Regions from separate parts of the Homo sapiens genome. Here regions 1 and 2 are each reported to be linked to region 3. Evidence: microRNA targets listed by miRTarBase, many of them from high-throughput screens and not tested one by one. Region 3 holds a microRNA gene; each other region holds the end of a gene's coding sequence. Distances are from middle to middle.
The links. The annotated mature microRNA hsa-miR-329-3p reads AACACACCUGGUUAACCUCUUU and lies in region 3 at 2,303-2,324, opposite strand. An mRNA with a match to its seed (bases 2 to 7 or 8) in the 3' UTR can be bound and repressed. Matches are read on the target gene's strand: a 7mer-m8 pairs with bases 2 to 8, a 7mer-A1 pairs with bases 2 to 7 and ends in A, and an 8mer does both.

Region 1 (3,000 bases), 63 Mb from region 3:
TGTACAGCTGTACAATGTGTTTGTGTTTCAAGCTAAGTGTTATTACATAAGAGTCAAAAAGTTTAAAAATTAAAAAGTTTTTAAAGCAAAAAAAGTTACAGTAAGCTAAGGTTAGTTTATTACTGAAGGTAAAATTTTTAAAATAATTTTAGTGTAGCCTAAGTGTATAGCGTTTATAAAGTGTCCCAGGCCTTCACATTCACATTCACTCACCGCTTCCTCACTGAATCACCCAGAGCAACTTCCAGTCCTTTAAAAAGCTCCATTCATGGTAAGTACCCTATACAATAAAGTGTATCATTTTCTATCTTTTATACTGTAATTTAATTGTACCTTTTCTATGTTTAGATCTGTTTAGATACAGAGATACTTACCACTGTGTTAAAACTGCCTACAGTATTCAGTGCTGTAACATGCTATACAGGTTTGTAGCCTAGGGGTGTAATAGGTTATACCACCTAGGTTTTTGTAAGTACGTGCTATGGTGTTGACACAATGACGAAATTGCCTAAAAACACATTTTTCAGAATGTATTCCTATTGTAAAGCAATGCATGACTATGTATACACACACACACACACACACACACACACACACAAACAGTTCAGCTCACTTATAGATAAAGCTATTTTTCAAATTACAAAAGAAAGCATCATATATTCTACTCAAATTTTTACCTTCTCTACTGAGAGATCATGTGAAGAGGAAAGCTAAAACACCAAGATTGAGATGAACTGAGATATACTCTGACAAGTCAGGTTGGGGAACATGGGCAAGCCATTTACTGTACTTATCTGATTTTTAATTTCACTTGTAAAATAATATTTAAAATTCCCCTGAATGTTGTTAATTCTAATTTTTCTGTAATTTTATTTAAGTGTAACTATTTAGAAACATATTTAGTATATGAGGCAAATTACCTATTGTTTCATTCTTTTAATGTTATAATACTAAATATATATATTTATATTTAGGAAATGAATTTATGGATTGAGCTGTTTTAATTTTTTAGTAATATTTTATAATTGGTCACTTACGACTTGTAAGTCTATTTTCCATTGTATACATTGTACACTCAAAAACATTAAAATAATTCTGTGAAAATAAAGTGTAAGCTTCTGTTTTCATTCCTCCCTGTTACTAAGCTTGTTTCTCTGCCTCTCTGCATGCACCAACCCCCACACTCTTAGTTTTAAAGTCTCAGCGTACTAATAAAAGTGGGATATCTTCTAGGGACTTTGATTCCACGAGGCAGTGATTTTTATTATGTCTTAATTATTTTTCATGGGAGTGCTTCATTTAGATTACTTTCTAATACCCCCCAGTTATAACAAGATGATAGATTTTTTAAAATTTGTCACTTATTTCTTATACTATTATTTCTTATGGTAAACTGTTTACCATGCCTTTGCCCATGTAAACACTTGTAAGATTATAATCACTCCAAAATGAGCAAGTATTGTTATTGCACACATTCTTATCAAGAGAAAAAGAAAATGGCTTGGTGTTCAAGTTTTTCCATGGGTTGAAAAATGCACAAGAACTTAGCAACTTTGGAGGAAAACCAGCTTACTTTTTCTTTGATGCAACCAGAAGATTGCAAATCAATACTTAGCATTAACATTTTAATTGAGAATTAACATCACCATAATTGAAGATGAGGATGAGCATCTTGATGTTCAGGAGAGGGCTATTTGCTTGGGGAGGTCATTACGCTGGAAAGCACAAACACTGGAAAGGGAAAACGCAAATTATGTGTTTTCCTTGGGCATGGACATAAAGTAAACACTTGAACTGGTGGTCAACTGTAATTTTCTTCCAGAGCCAGCAATTCTGGCAACACTACACTTTCGATTTATAGCAAAGCACACAAGTAGCAGTGACTTTGAAAAGAAAGGATAAAAGAATCAATGAAAAAGTTACTAGTTCTTAAAGATCTGTGTCTCATTCGAGGAACTTAAGGACCTCTCCCTCAATCTAAAAGCAGAATGCACTCTTGCTGCTTACTCCCAGCATGCCCTCAGCTGTTCCTAATTACTCCTGGAGGAAGGCAATGATATTTGAGTCTGGGTTATCAACAATCCTTTAATTTTTTATTTTTATTTTTTTCCCTGGGATTTCGAACCAATATACTCCTAGCCTGAACAACATAGAACATTTCCTTTCCATTTTGGTAGAAATTATTTTTTAATGTAAATTATATTGTGTTCTATTTGTTTCCAATGTCTTGAAAAGTTCAATCACTTCTCCAAATTCTCCGAATAAACATAAGAAAATATCTCTCCCCAGCACTACCCGGTCCCCCAGTATCACCATCCTAAAGGCACTTCCACTTCCTCTATCATCAGGGAAGGAGTGTGCAGTTCTGATTTAGCTCCTCAGTGGAGTAAAGGGAATTTAGAGGAAGGGGGATTTCTGCAGAAATTGTCAGTTACACAAGTAAGTTCCTCTTGGTTCCCCGTTTCATCAAAAGTGAAAAACTGTTCACAGGAGTGCCCATGTCCCCTGTTTCCCTATGCATCACTAGAGCCAAGAGGGGACTCCGCCAGCAAGGCACCCTCTGCTCTGTCCCGCAGATCACAGTCCCCGACTTTCACCCCATTGTTTGTGCAATGTGCAGAACTGGAGCCCAAAGCAGCGGGCTCAGGATCACTCTCCAGGCCCGGCGGGCCCATAGACTCCTTCCTTGGCTGGGAAGAGGGGCTTTCGTGAAAGCAGAGCTTGACAAGCCCCAGTACTGTCATGGTCAAGATCACCAACACTACTACTGCTGTGCTCACAAATATGAAGACCACGGCAGAGGAGGAGTCGAAAGCCTGAGGAGTGGCAGAGGAAGTCGTAGAATTAAACTTGGAAATCACGCTCCCTGATGGGGTGATAGTGGCCTTTGACTCGGCTTGAAGGGACATTTGAAGGGTAGACATCGTGCTCTGTGATCCCCATCGAGGAATCTCAGGAATAGATGTTACTGAATTGTCTTGTTCAGGGACAAGTGGTGTC
Region 2 (3,000 bases), not on the chromosome of region 3:
GTACAGAAAATCTTTCATTTTCCTCCCTGTCTGTTCACCAAATAAGTTTTTGTTTATTTAAAGACTACAGAGGATTTGGCTGTTAAGAACCAAATGCCTTTGGAGTGGAATTACAACATAATTTATCATTTCCTCTGTTTATTAAAAAATCCTGCATCTTTGAGAAGCACATTTGCAGTGAGTGGGGGATTTCGGCCACTCATGAAAGACTGTTGCAAAGCCCCTGTCATGTGGCTTACCCCAAAAGAGGCTCCTTAATTGCTCTATCTATCCCTGCTCTTCCCCCAGCTGACTTCTGATCATGTGATGACCACTTAGGGCTGGTGGATGGGGTTAGAGGACAGGTAAGTGGGGCAGGAGACTGTGTTAGTTTAACTTTGACCCAATTTTGACCTTGAATCCTCACTGCATGTTTCACCAGTGTAAGTAAAGAGGGAAGTGCAACCCTTATTACCTCCAGCACAGGAGAGAATCTGGAGGAAGTCAAAGAGCAAAGAGAAGTTGGATGTTGCTTTGAAAGAACTCAGCCAGGCCTTGCCACCACCAAAGTGGGCTCCATTCTGAAAGCAGACACCTTGCAGAACTGGAATGAACTTCCTACTTTTCCACCCAATAGATTATTATAGACAGCAATTTAGTTCAGTGCACTATGTACCCCCCCAAAACAGGGGTCATATCTTTCCCATTTTTGTATTGCCAGTACATAGTTCAGCACCTGACAAACAATTGGTGCTCACTAAATGCTAATGAAGGCAGCAGGACACAGTGGTTCCTTCCAGATTGGTGAGGTGCTGAGAGAGTGTGAGCCCAGAGAAGGCATGGAAGCTCCACACCCTCTCCCTCTCCCTCAACCTTGCCCTGTGTACCTCCTTCATTGGGCTGTTCAGCTGTATCTTTTATAATAAACCAGTGAACGTGTTTCCCTGAGTTGTGTGAGCTGTCCTAGGAAATTAACTGAACCAAAGGAAATCAAGGACTCTAGTTTGTAGTTGGTCAGTCAGGAGTATGGGTGGCCCAGACTCATGACTGGCATCAAAAGTGTTGGCAGTCTTGGGAGATGGAGCCCTCAACCTGTGGGATCTGACACTATTTCCAGGTAATGTCAGAAATGAATTGAATTATAGGATACCCAGTTGGTGTCTGCTGGAGAATTGCTTGGTGTGTGGGGGAAACAAACTCACACACCTTGTCACAGAAGTGTTCCATGTTGAGTGTGAAAGTACAAAAGGAAAAAAAGTTTGTTTTTTTCCTTTTACATTAGCACATCAGGCCTCAATTTGAATGCCAGCTCTGCTACTTGCTAGGTGTGTAACCCTGCACAAGAAACTTCACCTCTATGTAAATGACGCTGACAATGAATCATGAAAACCTTCTACCACTGATCAGCTTTGCTTTGTTACTTTGGGCAAATTACCTAATACTGTCAAGACTTAGTTTTCCTATTTGTAAATGAAGATAATACACATCTCTTAAGTTTACTGTCAAGATTATAAATAATGCCTAGAACTATACCTAACTCATAATGGCTATATTAGGAATGAATGAATGAATAAAAAATAATTGGAGGGAAAAAAACCTAATAACCCAGTATCCGAAGATAAGCCACAATAAACTACTTGTCTGTCAACAATGGGCAGGCCCTGCAGGAAAGGTATGTCACTACCAAGTAAATGTTGAGAACAAGTACAAGAGTGGAAAATGATAGAAAGGGAGTGTTAAGACTAGAAAGAAAAGAAGTCAGCATTTGCTGGGTAGCTACTATGTGCAATTTATTCACGATACAACATATGACTGCCTACTATGCTCCAGGCATTACACAAAGTTCTGAGGATATACAGGCTAATTAAGTGCAACAAGAATACTTAGAATTCGTACAAAGCAGTAGACTGTGCTATGAGAGCCGGTAATGAGGGTCCTAGGTTAGAGGGGAAAAGAAGACTTCCCAGAGGACGTGATATCCAAGACAAGGCCTGATGATAAACAGGACTGGCCAGGTAAGGAGGGGAAGAGAGAGCCAGGCAGAGAAAACAGCATGTGTGAAGACGACTCACAGGCAAAACTACTGTTATGGGTGCCTCACATACAGATCCTCAGTGATCATCAATCCAGACCAACTCTATTCTTTCCTTTGTGGTTGTTATTCCTTCCAATTTATTTAGATTTTATTGTTTAGTGAAAATGGGCCTCTAGTAAAGTGTCCAGTCACAGGTGAAGGCCAATATCAGAGTTTTAAAATGGGAACAGAGCCTAATTATTTGAAAAGGAGACTCCTAAGATGAGGAGCAGGTGGTACTAAGCCTGCCAATGGCCTCAGTCCCTTGGCAACATCAAGTCAAAGCAAATGCCTGAGTACAGGCCTTTTGCCAGCAGCAAGTATTTTCTGAGAGCCACCCACCGGCCCAGAGCAGAAGCAGGAAGAGAATGAACATGTCTGAGTGTTCCCCTGGAAGGCTGGGCCTTACAAGGACAGGCTTCTGTCAGCATGGTGACAGTCTTCTGTGTAGATGGGGGAGGGAGAGAAGTCCCAATGTGCCACCCATGGGATCCAGCAGAAACTGGGCTCTGGAGTATTGCTGGCCCCAGTGGACTTTCATCCAAGGAGTTCTTTGGTCTTCACTGCCAGATGCCTGTCCAGTTCTGCCACTGTGTCATCGGCCATTTGGCTGATCTGCAAGAACACAAAATGAGACAGCCTGATTAATGGGGCTGGAAAAGGGTAGGGGGATGAATATTCCAGAAACATGAAAAGGTTATGTGAGAAATAATAATAGTGACAAAAGTTCACATTAAGTACCAGTCAGGCACTGTACTAAGAACTTTATATATACATTCTTTTTTTTTTTTTGAGACAAAGTCTCGCTCTGTCGCCCAGGCTGGAGTGCAGTGGTGCAATCTCGGCTCACTGCAAGCTCCGCCTCCTGTGTTCACGCCATTCTCCTGCCTCAGCCTCCCGAGTAGCTGGGACTACAGGTGCCCGCCACCGCGCCCGGCTAATTTTTT
Region 3 (3,099 bases):
CAGCCTTCCAGGCAAGGTGTGATTCCAAAAACAGATACATGGCACCGAGGAAGCTGTAAGCAAAGTGAGTGCCTGCTACACACGGCTAGGGAGGGAGGGTCGGGGAAGCCAGGAGCACCGCCAGGCCACCTTCCTCCAGGTCAAATCCCACTTAATGCCTTCTGCTGCCTTCAATCCAATTCAGCAGAATCAAGAAATAAAAACGAATCTCATTTCCTGATGTGAGCTCCCCAAATGTTTTAGCCAATTCTGGGCCGGATTTTCTGTTTGCTATAAAACTCCTTTGACAATAATTGTTTTCATGGTGGGGGGAGTACTGTTATCTCCAGACTCTTTTGCATCTCAACAGAGAGTTAGATCAATCCTGACAGGGCTGGGGAGAATCAGGGGTCAGAAAACTTCAGGTTTCCTCTTACAAAGTTGTAAAATTGTGCCCTCTTTTCCCCCGAAGGTGGACCCCGGAGCAGAGGTCTGAGAAGAAAATCCCAGGGCCAGGCTGCGGCTCTGCACCCTTGCCACCTGTCCTTTGACCCCTCCGTAGCCAGCAGAGCACCCAATCTACATGGACCCAGCAGCCGCCTACCCTGGATACCCCGGAGGCAACAGCATACTGCCTGCTGTCACATGGCCTTGACACACTCTCTCTGCCCTCTCTTTATGAGGGCTCTTTTCGGCTGGAAGGAACGGTGTTTGGGTATCAGCTAATAGGAAGGATTGGTGGCGGAGGTCATTGGTGCTACCTCATATGTTCTCTCTGGTTATAAAAAGCAGGGTTGACATGGAAATACCTGGCCCTTCTCCAGAACCTGAGGCCCTCCTCCCTCACAGTCCCATCCCCAAATGCCACAGATGAGCCGAGGACCCACAGTCACAGCTAAGTGCCATCAAAACAAATGCAGCACCAGCAAAACCTACTTCTGTGCCTTGGCTTTAGAGCTGGCAGGGAGCCTTTTCCTTCCCCAGAGGCTGGCATCACCTCCAGGAAGTCCTCCTGGAAAGGATCGGGCACCAAGCATTACTGCCAGACAGGACGCTTAGAACAGGGGAAGCACCCATCTCGGCCCACTCACCCTGGCCTGGGCCTGACAACTGTCTTATCCGGAAGCCTTCCAAACTGGTGTTTGATACTGAAGAGTGGTCCACAGAAATGATTTATATAAAAGAAACAGATATGCCAAAGGAAACCTCTCCTTGAGCACCCCAAAGAAGGACCATCTGCAGAAACACAACCCTGAGGGTAGGTCAGATGTGCTGGTCAGTGGAGCAGGTGTGTTCCTGGGGAGGTACATGCCCCGTGGTGGGCCATCCACTCCCTTCCCCTGGATCAGGGCTGGTGACAATGCCCTCCCTTCAAGCTGGCATGACATCAAGGATTCCTCCAGATTTAAAGGAAGTCAACTCCACAATTCCTGTGAGAAATAAACAGGTCTCAACCTGGGCCAATTCCAGGGCCCCCAAGGTCTCCTCTTGACCTCAGAATCAGCTTTTCTTCCCTAAGGTGTCATTATATCCAGGACATCCTTTCAGAATAAACTGCAGGCTAGGGGCAGGCGTGCAGGACACCTGCACTATCTGTCCAGGGCATGCTGGCATTCCCCTGCTGTGGGCTGGGCTCATTCAAGCCCATCACTGAGTGTGGCAAGGACGAGGCATCCCCCTACAGCAGGGTCAGATGCCGAAAGAGCCTGAATTACACACACGATCCGTTGGGAGCACAACGAAGGCAACCACAGACAACTCACCTGCATGTTCCGTGACACTGTCGTGGTGACACTGTCTTCCCCCAGGCTGCCATCACATTGAAAAGTCCTCCTAAGAAGGGATAAGACATTGAGGGTTAGCGCAATCGGTGGCAAAATTCAGAAACATGGGGCACGCTTAGTGATCAGCCATTTGCTCGTGTCTCCTTATTTATGTCCACAGCACCCCTTCCCTGAAGCTGAGGTCTGGACCAGAAGGCCTCCAAGATGGGATTTGATACTGGAAAAGAGGTTAACCAGGTGTGTTTCGTCCTCAATAAAGAAACAGAAACCCAGAAAACCTCTCTTCAGGTACCACCAAGTAACACTGACAAGAACACCACTGATTCCTTCCCCAAACTTGACATTCAGTCCTGGAAGTCCTGTTAAATACGGATTGGACACTGGGGTTAGTAGAACAGATGACATCAGTCAAAATAATACAGCACAGGCTTCGTGGTTAACCATAGATTTCTGTCCAGTGGACTGGAGCTGAGAGTAACGCCCTTCCCTGAAGCTGAGGTCTGGACCAGAAGGCCTCCAAGATGGGATTTGATACTGGAAAAGAGGTTAACCAGGTGTGTTTCGTCCTCATTAAAGAAACAGAAACCCAGAAAACCTCTCTTCAGGTACCACTGATTAACACTGACAAGAACACCACTGATTCTTCCCCAGACTTGACATTCAGTGCTGGAAGTCCTGTTAAATATGGAATTGCACACTGAGCGTTAGTTAGTTGATTTGCCGGAAGAAGCCAAGAGTTGGATGCATGCTGCTTGCCAACCATCTATCCAAGTACCCCAGTGGAGCAGACCCCACATCACGTCTGGAAGTTGACATCACAGCCAGAGGTGGTGATGCCATAAAAAGGCTGGTCACAGCAGCTATCGCGTTTAGGGTTAACCTCCAGGGCCATCTTTTCTCAGTTACTCAAGAGAGGCACAGATGCCCCAAAGCAAGGCTGACTCCACCAAAGGTCCTGCTAAGGACCCAGTGGAGACTGAGGTGTGACGGGCCAGGCGACCTTGGTTGTAAATTAAAGTGCATACACTCAGGTCAGCTGATCACTGGAGGACTTTGGGATGGTATAGACAGCATGCCCCTTCCCTTGAACTTGGATGCCTCCACATCTAGGAAGCCCTCCAAGGAAAGAGATCGGAGTGAAAATCAGTCCAACTCAGCCACATTTGGCATACATGTCGCAAACGCCTCGCAGATGCTCTCTTCAGAGTCTAACAGAGTGCAGCTGGCCCCAGTTTACTGTCTCTTTCCCAAAAAGTTGACACCTCTTCCAGGAAGTTCTCCAAGGGGGCATTAGATACTGAGGGTTAGTGGACCAGGTCACAAACGGCACAAATAA

Region 1: the mRNA of CLEC14A is a reported target of hsa-miR-329-3p. The part of its 3' UTR that is shown has no 7-base or 8-base seed match.
Region 2: the mRNA of MRRF is a reported target of hsa-miR-329-3p. Seed matches in the 3' UTR shown: 7mer-m8 at 1,180-1,186.

What each region holds. Positions count from the first base shown.
Region 1 is chr14:38,252,037-38,255,036 of GRCh38, forward strand. It overlaps CLEC14A (C-type lectin domain containing 14A), which reads right to left. Exons shown (of 1, transcript NM_175060.3): 1 at 1,964-3,000. The coding sequence ends at 2,514. Among named protein-coding and RNA genes, the nearest start is that of CLEC14A, 2.6 kb to the right of the region's middle.
Region 2 is chr9:122,322,208-122,325,207 of GRCh38, reverse strand. MRRF (mitochondrial ribosome recycling factor) reads right to left here. Exons shown (of 7, transcript NM_138777.5): 7 at 1-2,668. The coding sequence ends at 2,591. Among named protein-coding and RNA genes, the nearest start is that of PTGS1, 47 kb to the left of the region's middle.
Region 3 is chr14:101,026,059-101,029,157 of GRCh38, reverse strand. MIR329-1 (microRNA 329-1) reads right to left here and starts at 2,373; the gene lies at 2,294-2,373. LOC124903407 (mucin-2-like) reads right to left here. Exons shown (of 5, transcript XM_047432049.1): 5 at 1-3,099. It overlaps MIR758 (microRNA 758), which reads right to left; the gene lies at 3,051-3,099. MIR329-2 (microRNA 329-2) reads right to left here and starts at 2,058; the gene lies at 1,975-2,058.